2 separate regions of the Homo sapiens genome follow, and region 1 is linked to region 2. The links come from fine-mapping of genetic effects on gene expression. A gene starts in region 2. The other region holds a variant in brackets. All regions are shown on one strand. Distances are between the middles of the regions.

Region 1 (15,812 bases), 65 kb before region 2:
GAGCTGCCATGCCTAGCCTTGCAAAGCCTAGCCACACTACCGCACCCAGCTAATTTTTTTTATTTTTGGTAGAGATGGGTTTTCACCATGTTGCCCAGCCTGGTCTTGAACCCCTAGGGTCAAAGCAATCCTCCTGCCTCGGCCTCCCAAAGTGCTGGGATTACAGGCATGAACCACCACGCCCAGTCAGTGCTATGAAAATGAATTTTAAAAACACCTAAGAAAGAAAGATTATTCTGAAAGATTTATTTTCCTTGGATTAAAGAGAGATTAAAAATGGCCATATCAGGACATTTCTCTGGACATACTCATATACTATTCCCCTCTGTTTTTTAAAACAAAAGATGGAAGCACCAGGTTAAAGATAAAATGTTGAAAGAACCAGTTTTTAAACAAAGGTGACAGAATTATTTTGGAAATGAATGGGTACATTTTGGGTTATTACAATGATTAGGGCTACTCTGGGATATAGGGATGCTGGATGCACAGGACTGATTCTGCACATGTCAGGACAACAAAAAGACTGTTCCATATCCTGCTCGTCATTCATACCCCCTGCTGGACTATTCACATAAATCAAAAAAACTAGCTGTAACTAAACCGAGAAACTAACCCCACTGTACATATTTTTGCAAAGCATTTTTTTTTTCTTTTGAGACCGGGTCTCACTTTTTCACCCAGGCTGGAGAGCAGTGGCGCGATCACAGCTCACCGCAGCCTCGACCTCCTGGGCTCAGGCAATCCTCCTGCCTCAGCCTTCTGAGTAGCTGGGACTACAGGTGTGTGTCATCATACCTGGCTAATTTTTGTATCTTTTGTAGAGACTGGGTTTCACAATGTTGCTGGTCTTGAACTCCTGAGCTCAGGCGATCTGCCGCCCTTGGCCTCCCAAAGTGCTGGGGTTGTGGGTGTGAGCTGCCATGCCTAGCCTTGCGAAGCATTTTTTACACCATTTTAATTTCTAAGACTACAAGTACTAGGATCTACTGTGTAAGTTGAAGTGAGATTACTTTCTTTTGAAGTTTCCCAGGAGGTGTTCATCATTTTGGAACCTCATGCCACCATTGTCAGCACTGTTCTAGGACCTGAGCTGACAACATAAACCACTTCCATCAGTTTGCACTTGCTGCTGCTCCATTCAGGGTTACTTCCATACAGTGCAAACCTCCAGCATACTTCATTATGTCTTACTGCATAGTCATATCCAAGCATTATCACTTGAAAAATACAAAAATTTCTTCTATTTATATTCAGTGAGGACACCGTATGGATTTAAGAAGATTCTCTGTATAAAGACCATTAAGGAAAACTAGTAAAATCCAAATAAACTGTGGTGTTCAGTCTGGAGTACTGTATCAATGCTGGCTTCTTAGCTATGACAAATGTGCTATTGGAATGGAAGATGTTACAAGTAGGGGTGAGAGGCTGAGGGGTATACAGGCAATCCTTATATCATCTTTGCAAGTTTTCTATGAATCTAAAAGTATCCTAATAAAAATGTTTTTGTTTTTGTTGTTGTTGTTTTTTAAGTCTACCTTTAGAGACATACAGAGATTTCAAATTTGGAAAACTGTACCTTCATTTCTGTTACTATCAGTTTTTTGGGTGGTTTTCTTTTTTTTTTTTTTAAGTCAAGGTCTGCTCTGTCACCCAGGCTGTGGTGCAGTGGCACAATCATGGCTCACTACAACCTCAACCTCCTGAACTCAAGTGATCCTCCCACCTCAGCCTCCCGAGTAGCTGGGACCACAGGCACATACCACCATGCCTGGATAATTTTTGTTTGTTTTACCACGTTGCCCAGGCTGTTCTCAAACTCCTAGACTCAAGCGATCCTTCCACCTTGGCCTCCCAAAGTGCTGGGATTACAGGCATGAGCCACCATGCCCAGCCAAATAACAGTATATTTCAACTATTACGGTGAATTGCTGAACTAGACATTTTCATATGTTAATAATGGTTAAATGTTAGCAAGTTCATATGGTTCATGCTAGAATAGTCTGGGCCTAATTAAATGGACTGTATTACAAAGTTGAGAATAAATGTACTTTTTATTTTCAGAAATAAAAAAATCAGTTTTAATCTACTGCACACATACACCTCCACTCTGGCAAATTCTTTGCATGGTTAGACTATATTATCTATGATTTTAATTTGAAGTTAGTAAAGGCAAATGTTACAAAATTATTATTTAAAAATGAGTAAAGGGTCTAAGAGGATTGAAAAACCACTAAAGTAAACAAAGCATTGATAAGCAGAAGAGACAGATTACAGCACAGTTTTTCTGAGAAATTTATATCAAATTCCTAAAGGATTAAAAGGAAAAAGCAAAGTATTTGTAACCTTTCCTTACAGATAGTCTTATTCTTTTTCCATAGGCTGTTATTCAACAAACATCTTTCACTGGTAGATGAACCTCCAAGTAAAAATATGTTGTGAAAGAGGACAGGATAAGGAAAATTTTGGTTTTGCAGAAGGCCTATAAAATTCTTGAACACATTCAGCTTCTGAAAAAACCTGTTAGGAGCAGAAACCTGACAGCAGTCAAGAAGTTTTCTAAAAAAACTAATTGGCAGGTTTACTGGGGGAAAAAAAAAACTCACCTGTGCACAAATCTGATGCATCACGTGACCAAACTCATGAAAGTAAGTCCTCACCTCGTCGTGTCTCAGGAGAGAGGGACGACCTGCCACTGGCTGTGAGAAGTTCACCACGAGGGCAGCCACTGCCATCATCCGGCTTCCATCAGGCAGAAGGCAGCCAGGCTGGAGACCGAAGCAGGCCGCATGATTGTATTTTCCTTCCCTAGGAGCCAGAAACACGCGTTGGCAACATAGGAAAATTCTCCTCTAGCAACTACACTGGCATGGCCTCTTCCAGTCATTAAGCCATATCTGTTACCAGAGATGCCTTTAAACATTAATTTACCTTTTAGAAAGTAGGTTATTTTGCTAAAATGGAAAAACTAAAGCTAAACAAACAATAACCCCACTAACATTCTGTGTGAGCTCCGAAGTTTCTTTTATTGAAAAATCTCGAGGTAAGAATGAAGAATGCATGTCACACCGACAGCTGAATGTCCAATTTATTTTAATGAGGTTCTACTTTTCTTTTTCAAAGATGGGATTACTAAACACTAAACAATGCTGAAACCCACATTTGAAATAAAAGATACAGTTTGACTCACTAGGCAGCCTTTTCATTAAAATCGGAATAAAAAACTGAATTTCTGACGATAAGGTTTTTCCTTTTATTTGAGGAGGAAAGAATCAGTAATCACAATTAAATAAGCTTCTTTTATAAACTAGACAGGCCTTTTTGAAACAGAATGCTTTTAGTTAGCCTGGGAAAATGCATAAATTATACTATCAATTAGACTATTCTTGTACAGTGTCGTATCTGTGTGGTCTTTCCAAAAGCTATTAGACTTCATTCTCCAAAAGCTATCAGACTTCATTTTGGGAGTACGTGTCCTTTCCCCCTTTTCTTTTGCTCAGAAGACTAATAGTACCTGGTCTTTTTATTTTTTTTTTTTTGAGACAGAGTCTTGCTCTGTCATCCAGGCTGGAGTGCAGTGGCATGATCTCAGCTCACTGCAACCTCTGCCTCCCAGGTTCAAGCAATTCTCCTGCCTCTGCCTCCTGAGTAGCTGGTATTACATATATACAACACCACGCTGGTTAATTTTGTTCTCTTGTTTTGAGACGGAGTCTTGCTCTGTTGCCCAGGCTGGGGTGCGGTGGCAAGATACTGGCTAACTATAATGTCCACCTCCTGGGTTCAAATGATTCTCCTGCCTCAGCCTCTAGAGTAGCTGGGACTACAAGTGCCTGCCACCACACCCAGCTAATTTTTGTATTTTTAGTAGAGATGGGGTTTTCCCACGTTGGCCAAGCTGGTCTCAAACTCCTGACCTCAGGTGATCTGCCCTCCTTGGCCTCCCAAAGTGCTGGGACTATAGGTGTGAGTCACTGTGCACAGCCTAATTTTTGTATTTTTACTAGAGATGGGGTTTCACCATGTTGACCAAGCTGGTCTTGAACTCCTGGCCTCAAGTGATCCACCTGCCTCAGCCTCCCAAAGTGCTGGGATTACAGCCACTGCACCCAGACAGTACCTGGTCTTTTTAAAACCTATTCTGAATACCCTTTTTAAAAGTCAGTTAGACAAATAAAACAAGTTAATCCCTTTTACCTTTATGAAGAGAACATCTTAAGATGACAGGAAGTAAGTATTAACTAGGTCACTACTTTCACAAAGATTACTCTCTGTTACCCACACCAGGGTGCTGGTAGCAATGACCAGATCTCTCAGTACAAAAGAAATTAATTATATCCTGGCAGTGAGACAGCAGAATGAGGTAGCAAGAATTGTTATTTGACGCTGGAAAGAAAATCTGAGGACAGTTATAGGAGACTCCAATATTAAAGGATTACTCCTGAAAGAGTTCTTCGGTTAAAACTATATCCTGATACTTTTTATTTAAAAATAAGACTCATCTATATTTGGCAGGGTTTTACTTTTAGGTCATAATATTAGTGAAAGTAAGTCCATAAAGCAGCAGGTGATGTGATTTGGCTGTGTCTCCACCCAAAGCTTATCTTGAATTGTAGTTCTCATAATCCCCACGTGTCGTGGGAGGGACCCAGTGGGAAGTAATTGATTCATGGGGTAGCCAGTCTCATGATAGTGAGTGAGTTCTCACAAGAGCTGATGGTTTCATAAGGGGCTTTCCCCTGTTGGCTTGGCACTTCCCCTTCCTGCCGCCACGTGAAGAAGGATGTGTTTGTTTCCCCTTCTGCCATGATTGTAAGTTTCCTGAGGTCTCCCCAGCCCTGCAGAACTGTAAGTCAATTAAACTTCTTTCCTTTATAAATTACCCAGTCTCAGTCAGTTCTTTACAGCACTGTGAGAAAGGACTAATACACCAGGATAATCACTTAGGTGCTAAAAGACACTTCTGCCCACCAACTAGATGACACAGTTACTCAACCTACTTTTCAGCACTCAAAGTCAGTGGATTACAAACTTGTGTGTATTACTGAATGAGGGGGATACTATACTCTCCTTTGATCTATTTAAATGATTAGTAATTGTAAGAGGTTGACTTTGCTTTAGAAAGTAGCCTGGGGAGAAAGAGATCCAAATCCTTTTGTATCTGATGAAACACTATGGAATCTATAGTTATTACATGCTATAGACACAATTATAACATTTTTATAATTGTTACCACTGATATCTGGGGAAGATGATTTGCACATATAGTCTTTAATGCATAAAACAATCCTGTAAAAGGATTTCCAGTCCCATATTACAGAGGAAGAAACAGAATCTCAAAGAGGTTATGTCACTCAAGCATTCAAACTCAAATCTGACTGACTGCAAAGGTTTTGCTACTTCTACTAAACTGTGCTGCCTCTCAGCCAGACTGAAGGGAGTGGCCATAGATTATTGGCAGACAGATTATCTAATAAATATTTTGGTGCTCAATTTTATTTATTTATGTTTTTTGAGTTAGAATCTTGCTCTGTCGCCCTGGCTGGAGTATAGTGGCGTGATCTCAGTTCCAGGGTTCAAGCTATTCTCATACCTTGGCCTCCCAAGTAGCTGAGACTACAGATGCCTGTTAAATTTTTGTATTTTTAGTAGAGACAGGGTTTCACCATATTGGCCAGGCTGATCTTGAACTCCCGACCTCAAGTGATCTGCCCACCTCAGCCTTCCAAAATGCTGGGATTACAGGTGTGAGCCACCATGTCTGGGTGGTGGTCAATATTCAATTAAGTAAATGTAGTGCACAAACTAGATGATGATGATAATGACAATGGTAGCAGCTAACTCTGATTAAGCCTTTGCTATGTGCTGAGCAGTCTTCTAAATGCTTTGCATGTATTCAACCAATTTAATCCTTACAGTGACCATACAAAGCAGGTACTACTAATATTCCCAGTTTATAGGACCTATAATATAGGTAAGAAAACTGGGGCACAGAAAAATTAAGTAACCTACCTAGTAAATGATGATGCCAGACATTCTGGCTTCAGACCCACATTTTAAATCTGTATACTAAGAAGCCCATGTGAGAAATATGGAAGAGTAGAGTCTTTTTTTAAATTAATTTTTTTAGAGATAGGGTCTAGCTCTGTCACCTAGGCTAGAATGCAGCAGTGTGATAATAGCTCACTGTAACCTTAAACTCCTGGACTCAAGTGATCCTCCTGCTTCAGCACAGCTAGGACTACAGGTGTGCACACCACACCTGGCTAATTTTTCATTTTTTTTTTTTTGAGACAGGGTCTCACTCTGTCACCCAGGCTGGAGTGCAGTGTTGCAATCTTGGCTCACTGCAGCCTCCACCTCTGAGGCTCAAGTGATCCTCCCACCTCAGCCTCTCAAGTACCTGGGACTATAGGCATGTACCACTACACCTGGCTAATTTTTGTATTTTTTGTAGCAACAGAGTTTTGCCATGTTGCCCAGTCTGGTCTTGAAGTCCTAGACTCAAGCAATCCACCTGCCTCGGCCTCCCAAAGTGCTGGGACTACAGGCATGAGCCACCACACTTGACCTAATTTTTAAATTTTTTGTAGAGACAGGGCCTCACTATGTTGCCCAGGCTGGTCTCGAACTCCTAGCCTCAAGCAATCCTCCCACCTTGGCCTCCCAAAGTGTTGGGATTACAGGCATGAGCCACTGTGCCTGGCCAAGAGTAGAGTCTTAAAGTAGGCATAGCTGAATCCCTAAGGTCCCTTCCAACAACGTGATCCTCAGTACCTTGGATAGAGGTCCAAATAGAACTGTCCCAATACTTCTCCTGTAGCTTTATCCTTCACAGTATAAAGTGTAACACTCTTGTTCCAAACATGAGCATCTGTCATTTGTTCAAATGAAAGTCCCAACAACTCCTGGTAGGTGTTCAGCAAGCCTTCAGTGACCACCTCAATTGGGAAGTATTCCTTGAGGAACTCTTGGTCTATGGAATACTTGAGTTCCTCTGTCTGAGTCATGTAGTAATATAGATCCCAGGCATTGATTTTCCCATCATATTCAAAACCCCTGTCTTTGCATTCCTTTTTCTTCAAATTCAAAATAAACTCTCGTTCTGCTTCACCCAAGGGTTTTAACTTCTGGCTTAAATCATCTGTAAGGAAAAGGAAAAGTTAGTGATCTACTTGCTTTTGGAAGCAAGCATACTCATAAATACCACCTGTGTTTTAGCA[T/C]GGTGCTTCCTCCTTTGCAGTACTCAATACAGATAAATAAGGCGGAAAGAGGTAAAGGAGGAGGAAAAACGTGAGGGAGGAAAGCAGGCTGTATTATGGAAGCACACTTTGCTCTTCGGGGTTATTGATTTTATGGTCCTAGCCCCTTTTTCTTTTAACACCCCCAGAACTGGGCCATGAGTTCCTCAATTCATCACCAAAGCTCAAGTTTATCTCAGAGAACGCTGACTGAAGAATGTTATTCAGGGAAAAAAGCACTAGTGAAACTAAAGTCATGTACATGATTATTCTTCAATGAAGACAGTCAGACTCCTAAGAAAGCTAGGGAAAACACATCAGATGTGACCTGTGGTCAATGTTATCTAGAAATTCCTATCACTGGGTTTAGTTTCTCATTACCCCATTTCTGTGAAGGTTTATCTGGACACAGCAATTCCAGTTTTTAGCTGGAGAAACTTCTGAGAACCACAAATTATATTGCTGTGGTCAATTTTTCACTTTACTGTATTTGGATAAATGAGTATGGTCTTATGTATTTATTTTTTACATTTTGTTACATACGTTACGATAAAAACATGCCTGGCTCTGCAAAGGACATGGCAGTTCAGAAGGCAACCTCACAATGTGAGAGATGGAGGAGCAGCCCGAGGAATACCGTGAAGAGAAGTGAGGAAACTCATGGAGGATACAAAGATATAGTTTTCCATATATATATCCATGTGCATGTGTGCGTGCATGTGTCTGTGTGTGCGCATGTATGTATACACACACACACACACACACATACATATATATATATATAAAGAGAGAGAGAGAGAGTGAGTGAGTTTTGCTATGTTGCCCAGGCTGGACTCCAACTCTCAGATTCAAGGGATCCTCGCACTTTAGCCTCTCAAGAGGACACTTTGCATAGGAATATGCCAATCTCAAATTAGAAGGAAAACTCCTTTAAATGAATTAAGTTAATCAGGTGGTTACTAAGGAAAATTTTAGTGTATGCAATCACCACTGAAGGAAACATTCTTTACAAACCTGTTAACTCTCTGAGCCATCCTCTTGTATACCATGCATCAGACTGTAGAGTAATTACCTGTTCACACTTCTGTTGTTTCTAGTAAGTGACAAATCCATTGAGAAAAAGACCTTGTCTCTTTTTAAAAAATTATTTTTATTTTTAGAGACAGGATTTTGCTCTGTCACCCAGGCTGGAGCACAGTGGCATGATCATGGCTCACTGCAGCCTTGAACTCCTGGGCTCAAGGGATCCTCCCACCTCAGCCTCCCAAGTAGCTAGAATTACAGGCATGTGCTACCATGCCTGGCTAATTTTTAAATTTTTCTGTAGAGACAGGGTTGGGGTCTCTTTGTTTCCCAAGCTGGTCTTGGACTCTGGGTCTCAAGTAGTCCTCTCACCTCGGCCTCCCGAAGTGCTGGGATTACAGGCATGAACTGCCATGCCCAGCCAAAAGGACCTTGTTTTACTCCTTTCTGTAATCCTACTATTTAGCATACTGCCTAAGGCTGAATAGTTATTTCATAAACGTCTCATGAATGAATGAGTGAATTATACAAAAACAAATATGTACCATTTATGGAGTTTAACATTATAGTTACTAGATAACAGTTTTTATACATATTATTTTATATTAGTTATTAGATACTAGTTTTATGTATATTATTTTATATTAGTTTTGTATATTAACAAGTGGTTTCTGGAATATTAAATGTTTTTTGTTTATGTATGTTTTATTTTTATGTACGTCATATTTGTCAGCTTATTTTATACAAATTCATAAGCAGCCATGCTATGACTACTAAATCCCTAGTGAAGAGAATAAAGCCAGTAACTTTAGTAACTCTCTGTTAGAACCTACATGTCATGTTAGGAATTAGTATAAAAAGCCTAAAGAAGATATAAGATACAGTGAAGCCAGGCCTATACTAGCAATATAAACAATAAGCAGTCCCTACAACCAAGCACACTATCTAACACTTAATAGGTGATCAATATACTTCTCTCAAATGAAGGAAAAGTAGGATGTCCTCAAAGGCATATTATGTTCTGAGGCCTTCTGTCTGGTTGACATGGTATAGCAAAACAGTCATAGAAAAAAAAAAAAGAACTAACCTAGAAAGGCTGTTACGCGGCTTGTGCTCTTTGCAGTGTTCATTTCAAGGACGAAGTCAGCATGTGTGCTATAACCGAGTAGTTTGGCCACCTTGGTTCGCAGTGGGAGTAGCTGCTGCAAAATTATGGTGTTTTCCTAGTAATAAACAACAGCAACAAAATAAAGGCTAATCAATAATTTGATCCAAAGCACTAAAAGGAAGAATTACTGTATGTATTTTTAGGTTTGTAAAATTATCAAATATTTTTAGACCATTTAAATTTCTGGTTCCATTTTGGTGTTATAGGCTTTTTTTTTTTTTTTTGGATTCATGATTTCGTTTTATTTCTGAAACAATTTATGACTTTTTAAACTTCAGAACTATGAGGTCTTAATAAAATTGTAGGTGCTACAAACTTAGAGTGAAAATATATTTTTAAGGAATATAGCGAATCCATATTTACTTCTACTGACAGAACTGCACCAAATATTGGTACTTTCAGTTCCTTTGGACATTTTTATTGTGGTAAAATACACATAACGTAAAATTTATCTTTTTAATTTCATACCCAGTTGTATGGCTACTATTTTTAAAAACATAGAAAATGTGCTGGTGAGGAAATGGAGAAATTGGAACCCTTGCACATTGCTGATGAGAATGTAAAGTAGTTTAGCTGCTGTAGAAAACGGTATGGTGATTCCTAAAAAAATTATACCATATGATCCAGCAATTCTACATCTCAGTAAATAACAAAGATAATTGAAAGCAGAGACTCGAAGAGAGATCTATACACCCATGTCCACAGCAGCATTATTTATAACAGCCAAAAGATGGAAGCAACCCAAGTGTCCATGGACAGATATACAGGTAAACAAAATGTGGTATATATATACAATGGAATATAACTCTGCCTTTACAAGGAAGGAAATTCTGACACATGCTACAACATGGATGACCCTTTAAGGTATGCTAAGTGAAATAAGCCAGATACAAAAAGACAAATATTTTATTATTCCACTTATATGAAGTTCCTAGAGTAGTGAAATTCACAGAGACACAGAATAGAATAGTAATTGCCAGGGCCTGGGGATAGGGGATAATGGGGAGTTAATGCTTAATGGGTAGAGTTTCAGTTAAGGAAGATGAAAAAACTCTGCAGGTGGATACAGGTGATGGCTGCAGAAAAATATAAACATATTCTCAATGTGAATATACTTAATGCCACATGCTATGGTCTGAATGTTCCCCAAAATTCATGTGTTGAAACATAATCCCTTTTGAGGTAGTGTTAAATGGCAGGGCCTTTTGGGAATTGACCAATGAATTAGTGCCTTATAAAAGGGCTACAGCTAAAGAACTTGGGCCTTTTCTGCCCTTCCCCCTTCTGCCATGTGAGGATATAGAAAAAAGGCCCTTTCTAGACACTGAATGCCGATGCCCCTTGATCTTGAATTTCTCAGCCTTCAGAACTGTGAAAAATTTCTATTGTTCATAAATTACTTCGTCTGTGGTATTTTGTTATAGCAGCACAAATGAACTAAGGCACCATAAAATTCTGCTTTTAAAAATGTTTCAGGGATTTTTCCCAAATTAACATTACAAATATCTTTTATATTTTATTTGTATTAAAAATACAAAAATTGATATTATTTTATTATTTTCTTAGCAATGAAATAAAAGTAATTCTCCTAGAGGAAGTAAGTAAATGTTAAAGTAAAAGAAAAAACTGATTCCAATAATCAAATCAGCAAATTATTTATAGACTGGTTTCTAAGGAAAATCACACACTGAGGTCACACTACCTGCATTCAAAATTTGGTTCCACCATTTACTAGTTACCTGATCTTGGGCAAATTCTGGAGCTTTCTGACCCTCAGTTTTCTCATTTGCAAGATGTGGAAAATAAAAATACATACACTGGAGAGTAATCATGAAGATTCAAATGAAAATATATGTAAAGTGCTTAGACAAATGCCTGGCACATAACCAAACACTATATAATTATCTGTTATAATTATTATTATTTTAAAACTAAAATGGAAAACATAGAAGAGAAACATACATAATGTAATTCTCCAAGTTCTAAAATTAAATAGTTTAATTAGATTTTTCTTTCATTTTTTGCAGTTTCTCCAGATCTTCTCTCTAGACTGCCAATTTTCTCCCAATATCTGTTCTCTCATTTTTTCTTTTAGTAATATAACTCTGAATTTTTTTTTTTTTTTTAATTTTCATAGAGGTGAGGTCTTGCCATATTGCTGAGGCTGGTCTTGAACTCCTGGCCTCAAGCAATCCTCTTGCCTTGGCCTCCCAAAGCGTTGGGATTACAAGTGTGAGCCACTGTGCCTGGCTGAACTCTGAATTTTTGCCGGACACTTGGTTACCTAATTACGTTTCCCAGCCTTCCTCAAAGCCAGCTGTGGCCATGTGATACTCAATGGGACAATGGGATGTGAATGAAGTGATGAGTGAAATTTCTGGGTCATGTCTGATAGATCTTTGCCTTGCTGGCTGTGAACTGAAGATGACCTCAATGACCCTGAAAGCCACACCCTGAGGATGGTAGAGCTGTCTTCCACCTCTGGACCACTCACCTCTTGACTTACAGTTATAAGACAAATCTTTTAAAAAAAAATTGTGGTAAAATCTGCCATTTTAGCCATGTAAAATTCAACGGCAATAATACTCATTCTATTGTGCAACCACTACCATCATCTGTTTCTAAAACTTATCCATTACCCCAAACAGAAACTCTGTAACCATTAACTCCTCAGTCTTCCCTCTCCCCATTCCCTGGTAACCTCTAATCTACTTTCTGGAAAGATAAAACTTTTATCTTATTTGAGTTAACTGTGCTTTTGACTTCTGTCAAGTCCCTTAGCCTGGACCCTAACATATGTAGAGATTAATACCAGAAATTGGGTGGTACTAACAATAAAAATGAAAAATGTACAGGAATGGAAGGTAAGGACCCAGACATTGCAGGCTGGGAAGCAGGTTCTCATTATACCATGGGCATTTGTGAAAACTGTTGCTTGCCATAACTCAGACAGCAGGCCATGTACCTACTGAGTCTTAGCCTAGAGGAATTGTTTGGGAAAGCTAATACTGTTGGGAGGTGTTTTTTTGGCATTTGTTGCTTTTTGAAAGATTACATGGGAGAGATAAGCTTGGGTGAGAATTGGCCAGTTTCTAAAGATGGAAGGAAAAGAATTCTGCTCAGGGAGGTTCTGCCTATGGCCTACAATCTTCAGATGGTTGGAAAAGCCAATTGCTCTGTGTTCCTAGTGTTAAGAGAAAAGGCTGTCACTCCGAGTTACTGAACTGCAGACATGAATTTGAGAATGCTGCCTTCCTCCACAAGCTCACTATGTTCAGAGGGCCTGAAAGCAGACTTCATTAAATGGAGGAAGAGTGAGATGGATAAATTCAGAAGACAGTATATAAGATTTGGCAAGTTTAAGAACTATGACCAAAAGTGATATTTGGGTATAGTTATTTTGACATGCATCTGATTAGCAGCAAACAGACAACAAACCTACATTTTTGAGGAGGCTGTATTACCAAAGATATCGTAAGTCTGGCCTACAAAAGTTTGGATTATTTGATCCCTAAAGCAACCCTTGGGATTCTACCTGACATTAGCAGGACCAGCAGTCCCCCAAGATATGGTCATCAAGGATAATGGACAAAAACAATTCCCTGTGGGCAAAACTGGGGGCCATGGAGTAAAATTGATAAAGGAATTCTTATGAGAAAGCAGACCCAAGTTTAGTCCAACAAGCTAACCAAGAAACGTCACCATAGTACAGAATCTTCCCAGTTCCTGAGGAATTTGAAAATTTTAGAAAATTGCTATGAGCTTGCTATGTTTCCCAGTCTTTCTTTTTCCAAATGGGACTTTTCAGTGCGGTTATTCTTTTCCTATGCCATCACTGGGAGTGTTGGGGGAGGGTGTGGGGGTGAGGAGCTGATAACTTGTCTTCCTTTTATAGTTTGCTGGATTATGAGAAGCTACAACCAGGAAGAACTGTATCACCCAGAGATCCTGGTCTTTGAGCTTCAGGCAGTAACTGGGAATTAACAAATGGTGAATGGGTCCTATGTAAGGAAAAAAGGGTCCTCATGGTTACTTGGATAGCTAGAGAGGCAGATCACGGTAGAACTGGCTAGATGACTGAGAATCCCTGTCTACTTCTTCCTTTTTTCTTTTTCATATTAAAGCAGGACTTACCAGTGCTGGATTGTTGATTTAGGAGAGGAGCAACAGAATTCTAATTTATTTAATCCATTCTATTTTTATTAGAACAGCTTATCCTGTGACCACACCAAGCAGGTTGTCAATGAGCAATGAAAAAGCTAAAAGTCTTGTAAGTCTGAGGAATTAGAGATACAGTGCACACACAGGAATATCAGTCTCTGAGCTGACTTTGACACTGGTGAACAAAGTAAACCCTTTTCTTAAAATATTCCATTAAAAACAAAAGAAAGACAAACATTTATAATACCTCTTTGCACCTTGTATTAAAAGCCATTTCCATCCTTCTTCTGGTTTCAGGGATACAACATTTCTTCATGACAGGGAAATAGTGTGGATATTTTAAGGTAATTTTATACTTGTCATCATCTGTCTTTTCTAAACTGTCAATGAAATCATCAGGAAGAGCACCTGCAAAAAATCATTTTCTCATATATCAAATTTTCCACTCATTGCTGGTTTATTTAGTATTGGCATGGTGCCTTTTGGTAGCTCTAGGAATTTTGTGTAGTAATTGAAATTCAAGTAAAATAATGACAATCCTTTAAATATCATTTTGATGTTGCTGGAATTGGGGTGGCTGTTAGAGGCCAGGTGCCTTGGGAGACGGCAATTCAAAATATGAACAGGTTTCAGTAAACTTGTGCAAATGATGTTTCAGTGGAGAACAGGCAAAATTAAGTGAAGAAAGACCCAGGAAAGCTGGGCACAGTGGCTCATGCGTGTAATCCCAGCACTTTGGGAGGCTGAAGTGGGTGGATCATGAGGTCAAGAAATCGAGACCATTCTGGCCAACATGGTGAAACCCCGTCTCTACTAAAAGTACAAAAATTAGCTGGGCGTGGTGGCACATGCCTGTAGTCCCAGCTACTTGGGAGGCTGAGGCAAGAGAATTGCTTGAACCAGGGAGGTGGAGGTTGCAGTGAGGCGAGATTGCGCCATCGCACTCCAGCCTGGCAACAGAGCGAGACTCCGTCTCAAAAAAAGAAAAGAAAAGAAAAGAAAAAAGACCCAGGACTGAGTAAGAAGAGACTAGTTTAAGATACAATGCAGGAAACAATGCAAGTCAAAAAAAAATTTTAAGGCACTGAAGGCTGTTAAACACAACTATAAACTACCAAGAAAAATTATGAAAAAAAAAAAAGATTATTAAGTCCCCTCTGGACTGTCTCTAGAAATTTTATATACCCTCATTAGCCTAAAATCTAATTTTGGTTGGTTTGATTGTCTCTTCTGTAGAAGGGGTGGTGGACTTAGGTACTGGATCATTTTTTAAATAATTATTTGAACTATGATTTAGAAATTTTGTATCTGGAAAGTAAAACAAACTGTGAGGTAACACTATTTGCCTAAATTATATGATTTAATCTAGAAAAATAATAAAACTTACCAAGTTCAGCCTTGGAAAATACAAGGAAGGTATCATCCTCATTGAGGTTTTTGTTAAAATCAATACATAGCTCACTCATTCTTTTCTTCATTGATTTGATTTCCTGAAAGGAAGATAAAAATACAGGGCATTAGCAATAAAAAGAAACTCATTTTTTGCCAGGCACGGTGGCCCACACCTGTAATCCCAGCAATTTGGGAGGCTAAGGTGGGTGGATCATTTGAGGTCAAGAGTCCAAGACCAGCCTGGCTAACATGGTGAAAGCCAGTCTCTACTAAAAATACAAAAATTAGCTGGATGTGGTGGTGTGTGCTTATAATCCCAGCTACTCAGGAGGCTGAGGCAGGAGAATTGTTTGAAAAAAACAACTCATTTTTATCACCATCAATTGAGTAAGTTTCACTTTCATATGAAGATTGACTTCTGTGCCCAAACTCCAGGAAGTACTTCTGTAGAGATGTGCTTGATAAAACAGGTTTCTGCAGTCCACTATGTCATGTCCACGTGTATCTGTGTGTAGCACTTATAGAAAGGCAAGCCTGGTGGTGTCTTGGAAATTAGTTGTGAATTTGAAGAATAAATTTAGGAGGTACAGTAAACACAATATATTGCACATAGTACATACACAATAAATAGTTTCTGAGTGAATGAATAAATCTAGCAGTGCATTACCAATTAGCAAATTTCTAATTGTTTCCAATTCAAAATTTTAATTCAGTAATCAGCATCTGGTTATGAAGTAAACCAAGAGATAAGAGCTGAATAATTCATTCTATTGTTGCTTCGGGGAAAAGGTGATGTTTTAGTTTTATAGAGCTTTTGTAAAAAAAGATGA
Region 2 (15,812 bases):
TTTCAGAGCCTTGGTGTGTGCCGTTTCTCCTGCTTAGAATGACCTGCCTCAGGTATTCACATAGCACAACTGCTCATTTCTCTTAGATCATTACTCAAGTATTAATATCACTTTCTTGGTAGCCTTTCCTGTTGACTCTACAATTTCCTTCCTATCGGTACTGAGCATTCCCCTTTCCCATTTTACTTTTGCTCTGCAGCACATTTTCCCATCTAACTTACTTTATATTTTCCTTAGTTGTCTCTCCCACTGGAATGTAAGTTCCATTAATGCAAAGATTTTTATCTGCTTTGTTCATTGCTATATCCCCAGACCAAGAATACTATTTCGCATATAATAGACAATAAATATTTGGTGAATGAAGAAATCAGCCAATCAATTATCAATTTACTGAGGAGGAAACAGATACGGAGAACTTAAGTATTCTTGCCTAAGATCACAATGCTAGTCAGTGGCAAAACCAGCATTCAAACTCAGGCGAGCTGTTTCTAGATTTATATAGTCGACTCTATGATGCTACATGCACTTTGCAATGCGGCAGCTTGGCATTTACATATGTATTCAATACACATCAGTTTCCTTGGTTCTTCATATCTTTAATTCAGGGGATTCTTCCCAAGTAAGTCCTGTGCTTTGTCTTAACCAAAGAGGTGATAATGTTTAACTCTGAGAAAGAACCAGGTTGCTTCTGACCAAAACCAGGGTTAAAGGACAAACAAAAAAGAAAGAAATCAATCCTCGGCGGAGCACGGTGGTTCACGCCTGTAATCCCAGCACTTTGGGAGGCCGACGCGGGTGAATCATGAGATCAGGAGTTCGAGACCAGCCTAGCCAACATGGTAAAACCCCGTCTCTGCTAAAAATACAAAATATTAGCTGGGCGTGGTGGCAGGTGCCTGTAATCCCAGCTACTCCGGAGGCTGAGGCAGGAGAATCACTTGAACCCAGGAGGCGGAGGTTGCAGTGATCCAAGATCGTGCCACTGCACTCCAGCCCGGGCAACAGTGCAAGACTCCATCCTAAAAAAAAAAAAAAAAAAAAAAAGAAAAGAAAACCTATTTTATAACCAAATCCATTTGTACAAATAATGTCAACCTAGCTCTTGATACTTTAACTTAAAAAACCCTTTCTTTACTAGATTTTTTTCCCCAATACTGTTCTCTTAACATTTTGGAGATTATGCCTACTGGTTTTAGAGGAATAATCTCAATTTTATTTAATTACACTTAGACCTGTAAATATTGTTAAGTTTATTAATAACTGTAATTTAGGCTGGGCCCAGTAGCTCATGCCTGTAATCCCAGCACTCTGGAAGGTTGAGGCGGGCAGATCACTCGAGCCCAGGAATTAGAGACCAGCTTGGGCAACATGGCGAAGCCCTGTCTCTACAAGAAATACAAAGATTAGCCGGGTGTGGTGGCAAACACCTGTAGTCCCAGCTACTCGGGAGGCTGAAGTGGGAGGATCGTTTGAGCCCGGGAGGTCGAGGCTGCAGTGAGCCATGATCATGCCACTGCACTCTAGCCTGGGCAACCAAGTGAGACTCTGTCTCAAACAAACAAACAAAAACACCAAGAAAACTGTAATTGAATTTGTCTGACTTTCTAAGATTTTCCATATAAATAAATTTTCACATCAGACAACAAATAACTTTTTGGTTTCCAGACCACAACTCCTGAATTTTTGTTTAGGAATTATACTCACTGAATAAACCTTCCAAAAATGTATGAAAATGCAAATTATAATAAGAGAAATTTCCACTTATCAAACTGGTAAGGATAAAAAAAATTAAAATGCTCAATGTTGGTAACAGTATAGGAAACCAGCATTTACTTACTCACCTGGTAAGGTTATAATTTGGGAGAAAGTTTTTAGAATAGAATAAGATGATAAGTACCAAAGACCTGAAAGGTATGCATGCCCTTTGATGTACAAATTCCATTTGTAAGAATTTATACTAAGAAAATAACTAAAGATTTGGAAAAGGACAATAGGAATGTTTATCCAAGCACTATTACTCATTGCAGGAAGTTGGGAATAGTTGACATTTCTAAAGGCGTATATTAATCAAATTGCATACATCCCCAAAAGGAATATATTATAGCTATTTATATTTTAGGGGATGTTTGTATAATATTAAAAATTATAAAAGAATAACAATATCATATTTATAAAAAGAAAGTCTGTTCATAGAGGAAATTTTGAAAGCTGTTAAGAATTGGCTGTTCCAGGTGGCTGGATTATATATATATTTAATATTTTCTTTTGCTTGTCATTACTTGCTAAGTTTTCAATAATGAACACGCATTGCTGTCATCATTTTAAAAAACCAAGCTGTGTTTTTTAGGCCAGGTGCAGTGGCTCACGCCTATAATCCCAGCACTTTAGGAAGCTGAGGTGGGCAGATCACTTGAGGTCAGGAGTTCAAGACCAGCCAGGCCCACATAGTGAAACCCCAGCTCTACTAAAAATACAAAAAATCAGCCAGGCGTGGTTGTGGGGACCTGTAATCCCAGCCACTCAGGAGCCTGAGGCAGGATAATTGCTTGAACCCAGAAGGCAGAGGTTGCAGTGAGCCGAGATCATGCCACTGTATTCCAGCCTGGGCAACAGAGCGAGACTGTCTCAAAAAAACAAAAACCAAAAAACAAACCAAGCTGTCTTTTCTAATTGCAAGAGGAAGCTAGGCTATTACAGCTATTGTTTCGGCTAAATATTGTTGAGTCAACCTTCTCGTTTGTTTCTTTGACCATGTCACTCATCCCTCTTATTCTATAATATACATTAGGCTTTGCTTGGGTCACATGCTGTACAATCTGAGGTAGGAGGAGGAATTCTCCTGGTTTGCTATGGCAATATAGAGGTTTTTTGCTTTTTGTTTTTTTTTTAAGGCCTTAGCTATTATTTAGTCTAGTCCTTTTCATTTTACAATATAAGGAACCTGGGCCAGGCATGATAGTACACTCCTGTAATCCCAGCACTTTCAGAGGTTGAGATGGGAGGATCATTTGTGGCCAGGAATTCTAGACTAGCCTCGGCAACATAGCAAGATCCTATCTCTACAAACAATTTTTTCAAATTAGCTGGGCATGGTGGTGAGCGCCTGTAGTCCCAGCTACTCAGAAGGCTGAGGCAGGGAGGATTGTTTGAAACCAGAGTTTGAGACCGCAGTGAGCCATGATCATGCCCCACTGCACTTCAGCCTGGATGACAGAGTGAGACCTTGTCTCTAAAATACATACATACATAGGTACATAACTTGAAAGAGGTCCAAGGGAGTGAGTGATTTTTTTAAGGTCACAAAGTGAATTGAACAGCAACTATAATCCAAACTCCAGATTCTCAGTCCACTTATTCCCAAGAAGTTGGCTGAACACCCCAATCAATGATCCTAGCTGGAAGCTGGCCTTGGGAAGGGGATATAGCAGCTCTGCCAACAAGAAAACCCAATGGAAACTGTAAGTCAGTTAGGCAAAAGCCTAGTTACTCCATAACACTAAAATGAACTCCCAAGTGTCAGAGGAAACAGGAAAAACAGGAGAACACAGGGGGTCCTCCATGTTGTCTAATATGAACTCTTTTGGAAGATACTGATTTTGAAACAGAGCAGATTCTGTGATTAAGTCAAGGAAGCCCTGGGTTAAGGACTACCATATATGATGATTAACTGTAAGATATGCCCTTATGTAACAAATTAGTTAATATATTTATGGTAGCTTCTAACAAGGTAATAATTTTTTGGCTATTAGTATATTTATTTTCTTCCATGCATAAACAAAGAATCTAATACCACATATCGGCAGCTCTCAAAATGTAGTCCACAAACCTTAAAGGTAGAGGTATGGGGAGGGGTTCCTGAGACACTTTCAAGGAATCTGTGAGGTTAAAAATCTTTCATAACAATACTAAGACATTATTTATCCTTTTTACTTTATGAACATTTGCACTGATGGCGAAAAGGAATGGTGGATAATACTGTTGGTACTTCAGCACAAATTGAGGCAATGACACCAAACTATACTAGTAGCTATATTTTTCATTGCCATGCACTCAGGCTAAAAATAATGTCAATTTCATTTTAGAATATCCTTAATGAAATGGTAAAAAGTATGAATTTTTATTAAATCTCTACCTTTGAGTTATATGTGACCAAGTACACACAAAGCATTTCTGCTGTGTACCTGAGTATAAGGGTTGTCCTGAGGATTTGGTTGCCCAAATCAAAAGCACTTTTGCAATTGGTTGAACTGTGAGCTGAAATAGATTTTTTTCATGGAAAACCATTTTTTTTTTTTTTTTTTTGAGACGGAGTCTCGCTCTGTCGCCCAGGCTGGAGTGCAGTGGCACAATCTCGGCGCACTGCAAACTCCACCTTCCGGGTTCACGCCATTCTCCTGCCTCAGCCTCCCGAGTAGTTGGGACTACAGGCGCCCGCCACCACGCCCGGCTAATTTTTTGTATTTTCAGTAGAGACAGGGTTTCACCGTGTTAGCCAGGATGGTCTCGATCTCCTGACTTCGTGATCCACCTGCCATGGCCTCCCAAAGTGCTGGGATTACAGGCGTGAGCCACCGTGCCCAGCCCATGGAACACCATTTTTACCAGAAAAAAACTACTGACAGACAAACCAGGGTTATTCAGACTTAAGTATGTGGCAGAAATTCTGTCAAAAATGTAACAAAGTGAGATTGTCACTTCAAGTAAAACAACTGACAGTTTGTGTTACCAATGATAAAATTCTAGCTTTCAAGTGAAAACTAGAATTTTGGAAAATCCTATCTGCCACTGTGAGCTTGACAGCTTCCCAATACTTGAAGACTTTTCCGACTAAATAGGAAGACATTAAGGAAAGTGATTGTTTGATACTGTATAATGAAATATGTCAACATTAGGAAGAACTGTATAACACAGTGAACCACTAAAATTTCCGAAGGACTTATGCTTAATGTTTTAAAAAACAGGCATGGATTCAACATCCATTCAAAGTGTAAGGTACACCATTGGATATTAATGTAACAGTGTAAAACAAGTACATTGATATAGTTTCAAATTCCACTTTGTAACTAACCTTTAAAAAGCTACGATTTGTCAAACTTTGATGTGATATCAAAGAACATCCATGATTATCTTTAAAAAGCTATTAAAATATTCTTCTTTCCAACTTCATATGACTGTGAGGTGGGATTTTCTTCATCTTAAACCAAAATGAAACAGTGCAGCAGCTTAAATGCAGAGGCAGACATAAGAATCCAGTTACCTTCTATTATGTCACACATTAGTTTTGCAAAAATGCGAAACAGTGCCACTTCTGCCGGGCGCAGTGGCTCACGCCTGTAATCCCAGCACTTTGGGAGGCCGAGACAGGCGGATCACGAGGTCAGGAGATCGAGACCATCCTGGCTAACAGGATGAAACCCCGTCTCTACTAAAAATAAAAAAAAAAAATTAGCCGGGCGTGGTTGCGGGCGCCTGTAGTCCCAGCTACTTGGGAGGCTGAGGCAGGGGAATGGCGTGAACCCGGGAGGCGGCGCTTGCAGTGAGCCGAGATAGCGCCACTGCATTCCAGCCTGGGCGACAGAGAGAGACTCTGTCTCAAAAAAAAAAAAAAAGAAAAAAAAAAGAAACAATGCCACTCCTAGGATAACTGTTATCAAAACCAGGAAATAAGTGCTGATGATGATGTGGAGAAATTGGAATCCTTAGGTACTGCCAATGGGAATGTAAAAATGGTACAGCCACTGAAGAAAACAGTATGGTTTCAAAAACTAAACATAGTACTATCCTATGACTCAGCAATTTTCACTTCTAGGTACATACAGTATCCCAAAGAATTAAAAGCAGGGATTCAAACAGACATGTGCACATTAATGATCATAGTAGTAGTATTCACAATAGCCAAAAGGTGGAAGCAACCCAAATGTCCACTGACAAATGGATAAACAAAATGTGGTATATACATACAATGAAATATTATTCAGTTTTAAAAAGGAAATCCCGACACATGCTTCAAAACGAATAAACCTTAAAAACGCTATACTAAATAAACCAGACGCAAAAGGACAAATATTGTCTAATTCCACTTATATAAGGGACCTGAAATACTCAAATTCATAGAGAAAAAATAATGGTTAACCAGGGATTGGGGGAGGAAGTAATGGGCAGTTATTGTGTAATAGGTACAGGGTTTCAGTTTGGGATGATGACAAGTTCTGGAGATGGACAGTGGTGTTGGCTGTACCTCTCAATTGTACACTTAAAAATTATCAAAATGGTAAATTTTGTTATATCTTACCACAATTTTAAAAAAAAGGGAAAAAACCCCACAATGTTAATCTTCTCACTGATTGGGGGGCGGGGGGGTTGGTTTGGAAAATAGTTATTTTTCATTAAAATCACTATTTATGCACCTAGCCTATTTATTAGTTTTGTAAATTAACAACTACTTTAATTTTTTTCCAGCTTTAATGTCTAATATGGTAAATATAGACAGATATACCACACAAACAGAAGCTCTTAGGTCCACGGTAATTTTTGAAAGGTAAAGGGGTCCTGAGAATAAAAAGTTTGAGAATTGTTCTTTTTTTTTTTTTTTTTTTTTTGAGACGGAGTCTTGCTCTGTCGCCCAGGCTAGAGTACAGTGGTGCGATCTCGGCTCACTGCAAGCTTCGCCTCCCGGGTTCATGCCATTCTCCTGCCTCAGCCTCCCGAGTAGCTGGGACTACAGGCGCCCGCCACCACGCCCGGCTAATTTTTTGTATTTTTTAGTAGAGACGGGGTTTCACCGTGTTAGCCAGGATGGTCTCGATCTCCTGACCTCGTGATCCACCCGCCTCGGCCTCCCAAAGTGCTGGGATTACAGGCATGAGCCACAGCGCCCGGCCGAGAATTGCTCTTATATGAAGATTTATTCCCTCCTCTCACCCCTGCATTATGTGAAGTCTTCATTTCTTGGTATAACTTCATTTGACAGCTATATCGATTGCAGCCTGGAGACTAGCAAAAAACGACAGGCTGAAATATGGTCACCAATCACCACATTAACTCTTTGTAATTAACCACTGTCGCCTGCCTGCTCCCTAACTCTACGGACTGAGCAACACAAAGCTCCATCCACACAGACGAGTGGCAATGTGCAAAAGGGAACTGTAGAAAGCTTAAATGCTGACATGTTACAAAGTAGTTTTGTTGATAGCTAGCAAGAAGCACACATTTTCTTTATTCTGTTGAATCTTCATTTGGATTTACAGTTCTGGGCAGATTTGGAAACGGGGATGGTGGCGGCATTGTTTCCGAAAACCAGCGCATCCGTGCAAAGAATTTAATTCCCTCACCATCTTGCTACTGGTCTGTTGCAGTGGGGTGTGGTTAGAGGGCTAGGAAGCAATCCAAAACAGCAGCTCAGGCTGCCCAAAGCCGTGTCCAAGCGATCATTTTCTCCATTTTGGGCCAAGTCAATTTGCACCGGCAAGAGGCAGAATGTTTGTTTTATGGGGAGGAGGAAAATAAAAAAGGAAGTCAGAGAGCATGGACGGAAACAAGCAACACCACCAAAGAGGTTTCATCTCGGGTGGATGTTAAACGATTGGAATGCTAATAATGGGCGCGAGGAGCAAACACAATTGTTCTGAGTCCACAGCTGCGGCACTTTTAATGACAGGTCTGTAGTTCTGCATTGGGATTGAACGTGAAATGATTTTCTTATCCAAACTATTTGCATTCATTTTGGGCCGCGTCTGTGACCAGCCTCGCTGACTGCGGCTGAGGCAGTCCCAAACAAAGAGGAATGGACGTCCTCCCGAGGGAGCGGAGGCGGGAAAGGTGGCCCCAGGTGGCCGCGCCAGGTGTCCCCCAGGGGTCCACCTTGCAAGCCGCGGGGAGGGTGCGTCCCGGGAGCGTCGGAGAGGCGCGGTCGGGAAGGGGTGGGTCCGGGCTCCAGGCACCACACGGCGAAAGACCCCGCCCTGCCCACGGCCAAGGTTAACCCGCGCGCTGGAGGTACCTGCGGAGGCTTCGCACAGCCAAAAGGCACCGGGCGATCATGGGAGCGCTGAGAGGCTGGCGGCGGCGGGCGCGTGGTCCTTCGGCGTGGGGCGGCGAGGCGGGCGGCAGCGCCTGGGCGCCCGGGAGTCTCGAGCCGGCCTAGCCGCAGAGGCCACAGTGGCTGCCTGGCCAGCGCCCTCCCACGTGCGGCAGCTCCACGCCGGCGCCTACCAGCCCCGCCCCGCGCCGTGCCCCGCCCCAGCTCGCGTGTCTGGCCCCGCCCCAGCCCTCGCGTCCGGCCCCGCCCCAGGGGCGGTGCTGGCCAGACCCTGCCGCCTGAGAGAGAGCACAGCCTGGTGGGTTCTGGGGTCTACGGCCTAGGGGCCGGGGAAGTTTGCGCCGCCGCGACCAGTGCTGCGATCCCGAGCCGGGCTCCAGCCCCGAGGACCAGGGGTCGGGCGGGCCTGCCTACGGAACCCCGCGGGCCAGCAGCAGTCGTCTCGCGTCCTCCTGCTTGGTAAGGGGCTTCTGTCTGGCAAGGGTGCGCCTCCCGCCGCTCCGGACCGGGGCCCGCACCGGCACCCGCTGCACACCGGGCAGGGCCGAGGCGAGGCCGGGTACCTGAGGGAGGACGGAAGGGAGGGGGAGCTCGATGCGCTCTGGGGAGAGGAAGGGGGAGAAGCCTATTTCCCTCTTCTCACCCCTTTTCCCCCCATTCTGTTTTTACCTTCTGCCCTGGGGCCTTATTTAGTGCTTATGACCCCGTGGCCTAGAGGCTGACATCGCCTTTAAAATAACTACACAAATAATAAACATTATAGCGGCGGGTACCACACCCTGGCTTTGAATTAGGGAACCTGGGGAGCAGATGGATGATGCGATTTGGTGGAAATCAGCCATGAATGCCGCCTGGCCCTGCGCCACTGTTTGGATGCGATAGTATTCCATGTGAATGAACATGACCGGGAGCTTCCAGCTTGTCCACGAGAGCACAGCCTCTGCAGGGAGCGCCGGTCGGCTTGTAGTATCCATCGACTTGGGCAGCGATTTCCTGACATGTCTGCTGATTAAATAGAAATGCCATTTTTATTAAGAACGACACTCACCACTTGAATAACCTTTCGCGAATGTGTTTCCTCATCAAATAACTCTCAACCTACAAAAGTGGGTAGAGTGTACATTATTAATACTTTTTTTAGATCCCATGAAAAAGAGGAAGATGCTTGGTATACATCAGCTTTTAGTCAGCAGTATGAAATGCCTCTTAACTTAGTACTGAGGCCTTTAGGGGATTTCTGTATGGTGAGATATGCAGTGACAGTCTAAGCTTATGCTGTACATGTTTTGAAGACATTTTTACTTATTCCAAGATTTAACATACTCGTATACCACTGGGTATTAATGAAAATATGTAATAAATTACCTTCACAATACTTTGTGCTCTCCTGACTCTTTACAAAGAGAAAAGATGAAAGGTCATACAGTTTTGTGTTTTGTTTTTACCTTTAATACACTTTATAACCCATATCATCTTTGTAATTTATGACTTTCCTGACTGATTCTTTAAAATAACTTAGTTCAGTGTTTTCATTTTTCTTATCAAGGAAAAGTGTTTAAGCTTCTAAAATGTCATCTATCAAGCACCTGGTTTATGCAGTTATTCGTTTCTTACGGGAACAAAGTCAGATGGACACTTACACCTCGGATGAACAAGAAAGTTTGGAAGGTATGCATCTGCTCTTTGTGTTCATTTATATTATAATTATAAACGAAGACTAAAATAGCTGTAAGCCCAACTTGATGATCTATTGTAACATAATCAGAATTTTTTTTGATCTTTCAAGAGGAGAGGCCTGACTATAAGGTTATCGTATTTCCATTTTCTGAAGCTTGTTTTGTTTGTTTTAACAACAAATTAAGAGGACTATTGTTCATTTATTGAACAAATACTATATGTCAGAAGTATGCTGTTCATATTATAGGCAATTTTTTCTTCACAGCAACTGTTATGTTAGTATTATCCCCATTTAACAAGTGAGAAAATAAAACCAGGGCCAGGCTTGGTGGCTCATGCCTGTAATCCCAGCACTTTGGGAGGCCGAGGCAGGTAGGTCATTTGAGGTCAGGAGTTCAAGACCAGGCTGGGCAACATGGCAAAACCCTGTCTCTACTAAAAATACAAAAAGTAGCCAGGTGTGGTGGCACTTGCCTGTAGTCCCAGCTACTCAGGAGGCTGAGATAGGAGGGTGGCTTAAACCCAGGAGGTGGAGGTTGCAGTGAGCTGAGATCACACCACTGCACTCCAGCCTGGGCCATGAGCGAGACCCTATCTCAAAAAAAAAAAAAAAAAAAGAAAAAGAAAATGAAACCAAATAGCGTAAGCAGATAACACAGCTGATATGTGATAAAGCTGAGATTTAAATCCTGGTTAATACTCTGAAGATCTTGTTGTCTCCATTTCCTAATAGGAAAGCATCCAGTTTAGAAATAATATATAAAAATACCTGAGTCATTTTAATAGCACTATGTAAAAGTCTAATAATTATACCACTAGTGAGATCTGACCAGTGCCTAATTTGGAACTTGAAATGGGAGCATTTCACCTGTGTTTTACGTTAACTTTAATATTGGATTCGGTAATCTGTAAAGTTGAACAGGATGTGGGTGATAGCATCATGTGTTTCCTCGACACCGTCTTTGTTCTTCATGTTTATGTGTTATAAAATTTAAATTCAGTACAACCATAACAAGGTAGAATTCTGCAGATGGGCTTGTGGAGGTTCAGTGAATCTGGTGTCCCTGTGGCCTAAAGTCTTTTATTTATTTATTTATTTTTTGAGACAGGGTCTGTCTGGCTCTGTCACCCAGGCTGGAGTGTAGTGGCACAATCTCGGCTCACTGCAACCTCCACCTCCTGGGCTCAATTGATCCTCCCACCTCGGCCTCCTGAGTAGCTGGGACTACAGGAGTACACTACCACACCCGGCTAAGTTTTGTATTTTTTTTTGTAGAGACAGAGTTTCGCCATGTTGCCCAGGCTGTTCTCAAACTCCTGGGCTCAAGTGATCCACTCGCCTTGGCCTCCCAAAGTACTGAGATTACAGGCATGAGCCACCCCTCCCAGCCCCAAAGTCTTAATTATTGCAGTGAGAGTGCATTTGGAAGAACTTAATAAATGACAGTATAGTTATAAATCCCATCTTGAAACTGCTTCTATAATTTCAACAAGCATTTCCCTGTGAATATGCTTTTAGGAGGTGGAGATGAAAATTGGGCATTTGCTCTAAACCTCCTTGCAGTCTGGTTAGTTGATGTCTTTCCAGGTGGCAGTGAGAGGAGCAGGTGATGCACAGTTGGAGAACATTGCAATCAGTCCATTTAATATTAAGGTCTTTTTGTTCTCCTTGATGATTAGACTATGTGAAAATAAAGTTGATTGGTTATCTAAGGAGAATGTTAGTTATGATTGCTCTGTAGCAAACAGATAAATGCAGTCATTTAAGAAAAGATGTTTCTTTTCTAATCAAAAGCAGCATAAAAGTTTTAAGGGCCAGAAAGAAAATTGAGGGTTTTTTTTTCAAACCAAGATGTTATGTCCTATTTTTAGGATGGTATTCAGCCAAAAATATGTGCCTTCAGCTGTTTGTTATATATGGCAGTCAGAAAGGGTGCCAATTGTTTTTGACTGACCCCTATTTTTGACTCTGTGAGTCTAATTTAATTGAACATGAAATCATGTGGAGGTGTCTGCCCACCTTCTAGACATTTTTAAAAGCCCTAGGAAAGAAGCCTCAGTTCTAATACCAGCTTTACCACTACTGTGAAGCTGGTATATCATCAGCTTTGTCTTGCCATCAGATTATGTCACCCACTCCTCTTAATTATTGTCATCTACTGACATTTGCTTCATTCCTTGACTAATTGTGGTTCCTGCTCACTGTCACTCTCTCTAGCACTACTCCTATTTAGTTCTTGGCAATTGCAATATACTGATTGATGATTATTTTAGTTCCCTGGCTCTCAGTTATTGACCTCATCCAGTGATCTCAAACACTTGATCATATTCTAGATCAGTGGTTCTCAACTTGGGGGTGATTTTGCAATATCTGGATACATTCTGATTGTCACAACTGGGTGAGGCGGGTGGCTGGTATTATTGGCATCTAGTGAGTAGGTAGAGGCCATGGATGCTGCTAATGCACAGGACAGCCCCTGACAAGAAGAAATTACCTGATCCAAAATGTCAGTATGCGGAGATTGAGAAAGCCTTCCCTAGACTTAATCATTACCAGAATTGCATTCCTTCCCTAATCTCTATCCCAAACATTTCACTTCCTGACCACTATTGCCTGTCTTTCCAAGATTACTCCCTCTAGAATCCCTACTCCAGCTATTCTTTGACCCAACCAGTACCTCCAATCTGTTCATGCCTCACCTTTCCCCACACCTCTTCTTACTCATCTTAAATTCCATGGTTGATAATTATAATTATTCCCTTGTATCTCCTTCCCTTTCTTGCAAAGCCCAACTTTGTTTAAATCCAACTCTCCACCTACTTTGTGCCCAACTACTCACACCCACTCATGTAGCCGTAAATAAATGGAGCAAAACACACAACTTTGCTGACTAGTCCCACTTTAAATTCATGACTGTGAACTTCAAGTAGACCTTTAATGCTGTCAGGCAATCACAGTATCTGTTCTAAGTTCATTCATACATTTATTTTCCTAGATGACCATTTTAACACTTTCTCATATCTTCTCAAACCCTCAAACCTCCTTCACTGTCCTCACTTTTAGTTGGTTACCTTGCTTTCTACTCCACCAAGAAAGCTGAAATAATAAGAAAATAGCTGGATATGATGGCACCCACATACTCGGCCTGCCTGCCTGTTTGACTAGCTATTACCATAGATGGACTATTCATGTTCCTTTCTAAATGGAACCCCTCTACTGGTATACTAGATCCCATCCTGTCTCACCTACTCCAGGATATCACTTTAGTTATTTTATTTTTTTAATCTTACATCATAAAATTTTCATACCCTACTGGATCATTTCCATCATCATATAAACTTACCATTATTCTCCCTTCTTCAAAAAAGCAAAAACAAACAGCAAATAATTACTGCTTAATTGTATGTCTCCCTTTGCAGCAAAACCATTTGAAAGAATGGTCTATACTTGCTTTCTCCAACTCCTCTCCTTCTATTCTTCTTAAACCCATTCTGATTAAGCCTTTGCCTCAATCTCTCAATCTATACCACTCTCATCAAGGACATTAGTGATTTCTGTGTTGTTTAATTTAATGGTCAGTTCTCAGCTTTCATCTGAGTTATTAGCTGTCATTGATAATGTTGATGGTCATTTCCTCATGAAATGACCCCCACCACCCCCAGTATATTTTATTTAGTTTCCAGGATACCTCATACTTTCTTGGCTTTCTTATCTCATTGTTTGCTTCTTTTCTGTCCCCTTTTCTGGTTCCTCTTCTTTTCCCTGACCTGGTGTACCCAGGGTCCACTGCTTGATCCTCTTCTTTTCATTATCTATACCCATTTCTTTGGTGATATCATTCGGCTTCTTAGCCTTAAATACCCCTTATTTATATGCTATTTCCCAAATTTATGCCCTCAGCCCAGACCTTTCTTCTGAAGGTCTTATATATCCAAGTACCTACTAGATATCTCCACTTGCATGTCTAATAGGCATCCCAAATTTAACATGGCCAAAACCGAACTTCTGATTCCCCCACCCAAAATCTGTTCTGTATGCAATTTCCCAATCTCTGTTTATGTCAGCGTCATCTTTTCTGTTGCTCAGGCCAGAAACTTGGGTATCATTCTGGACTCTTCTCTTTCTCAAATACCCTGTAACTAATCATTCAATAAATCCTGTTGGCTACACTTTCAAAATATGTCTAGATTTGACATCTCTTATACCACCTCTGGACTGAACTATTTCTTGACTGTTTTAGTGTGATAGCCTCTAACTGGTCTCTCTGCTTCTATTCTTGCCCCTCCATTGGCTGTTCCAAACACAGGCACCAGTGATCTTTACAAACAGAGTATGTGAGTTTCTATCATTTATCTACTCAAAACATTGTTTAAAGGATCTATATAATTTGACTTCTGTGACATATTGTTCACCTACTCCTCCCCTTTCTCATTTGGCTTCAGCCATTATTAGCTTTCTCTTTATAAATGTACCATATCCTCTTGCCTAAGGGCTTTTGCTCTGGCTGGTTCCTCTGCCTGGAATGGTCTTCACAGATAATGCTAACACCCCCGTCTCCTTTAAGTCTTTGTCAAATCTCTTTTCTCAGTAAGGCCTACCCTGAACTCTCTGTTAAACCTGCAGCTGTGGGCCGGGTGCGGTGGCTCACACCTGTAATCCCAGTACTTCGGGAGGCCGAGGCGGGCGGATCACTTGAGGTCGGGAATTTGAGACCAGCCTGGCCAACATGGTGAAACTCCCTCTCTACTAAAAATACAAAAATTAGCCAGGCGTGGTGGCACACGTCTGTAATCCCAGCTACTCAGGAGGCTGAGGCAGGAGAATAGCTTAAACTCGGGAGGCACAGGTTACAGTGAGCCAAGATTACGCCACTGCACTCCAGCCTGGGCAATAGAGCGAGACTCCGTCTCAAAAACAACAACAACAACAACAAAAACCCTGCAGCTGCTTTTCTGCTCAGCTGCCCACACTCTCCATCCTCCTTACCCTTTACTACCTGTTTATTGTTTATGGTCCACCTCTCCATCTCCTACTAGGAAGGAAATCCCAAGAGGTTAGGGATCTTTTCTGTTTTATTCACTGATATGTCAAAAGTGTCTAGAAAAGTGCTTGACACATAGTAGGTGCTTAATAAATATTTGTTGAATTGAATCCAATGGTCTCGGGCATTTCCCTTAGTTGGTTTGGATCTTAGTTTCTAAGTCTATTTGGTAGAGATACTTGCCTTCCTTGCAGCCAATATATTTGTGAAGAGAATCTGAATCAGCGAATGGCAGGTACATAGCATGTGAAAACTTTTGAATTAAGTGTTATACAGATAGGATGTGGTATTACTGAATAGAATTCTTCACTCATCTTTCTCTATCAGTACCAGACTATTTTTGTTCGGTGTTACAGTGAAACAATAAGTATATATAGTATTTGTTTAGATTTTGTGACTTATTCCTGAATGTCTATTATTTTCATTAGGAATAAATAGGAATAGATTCTTCTAAAAGGAAGATCAAATGTAATAATCTCTGTTTGATAAATGAGAATCTTGAGGTAAATGTAAGTTAAATTATTGTACCCAGGTTATTTAATTTTTTCAGCCTGGATTAATAAGGATAACGAGACAGGCCTGAGTTCCAAGGCTGTGGTTAGCTTTGTTCACTAATCCCAACTTCACTAATCCCAATCAATTTCTCAAATCCAACTTTTCTCTCTAATTCATTCTCAATGTTCCTGCCAGACTTTTAGTTCTAAACATAATTTAGTTACGTTATTCTCCCTCACTAAATTCTTTAATGGTTCTCCATTTGCTCATTCCTTGAAGTCTAAATCTTTTTAAAAATGCAATTTCAGGTGCCTTGTCATCTAATGACAGACTTCTTTTGGTTTTTGAAGACAGAGTCTCGCTCTGTCGCCCAGGCTAGAGTGCAGTGGGGTGATCTCGGCTCACTGCAACCACTGCCTCCTGGGTTCAAGCAATTCCCATGCCTCAGCCTCCCGAGTAGCTGGGATTACAGGGGCATGCAATCACATCTGGCTAATTTTTACTTTTTTAGCGGAGATGGGGTTTCACCATGTTGGCCAGGCTGGTCTTGAACTCCTGAC

What was found.
Region 1: its variant is fine-mapped to the expression of NLN in whole blood (INTERVAL, PIP 0.97).

The regions. Positions count from the first base shown.
Region 1 is chr5:65,779,447-65,795,258 of GRCh38, reverse strand. It overlaps NLN (neurolysin), which reads right to left. Exons shown (of 13, transcript NM_020726.5): 5 at 14,978-15,080; 6 at 13,838-13,998; 7 at 9,349-9,484; 8 at 6,775-7,141; 9 at 2,604-2,805. Among named protein-coding and RNA genes, the nearest start is that of NLN, 65 kb to the right of the region's middle. The variant T/C (reference allele first, on the strand shown) is at 7,221.
Region 2 is chr5:65,714,602-65,730,413 of GRCh38, reverse strand. It overlaps NLN (neurolysin), which reads right to left and starts at 8,209. Exons shown (of 13, transcript NM_020726.5): 1 at 8,000-8,209. The coding sequence starts at 8,040. SGTB (small glutamine rich tetratricopeptide repeat co-chaperone beta) reads left to right here and starts at 8,305. Exons shown (of 11, transcript NM_019072.3): 1 at 8,305-8,497; 2 at 9,585-9,706. The coding sequence starts at 9,607. RefSeq lists silencers at 3,060-3,109, 7,895-8,504, 8,575-8,624, 8,685-8,734, 10,779-10,975 and enhancers at 6,945-7,024, 6,797-7,618.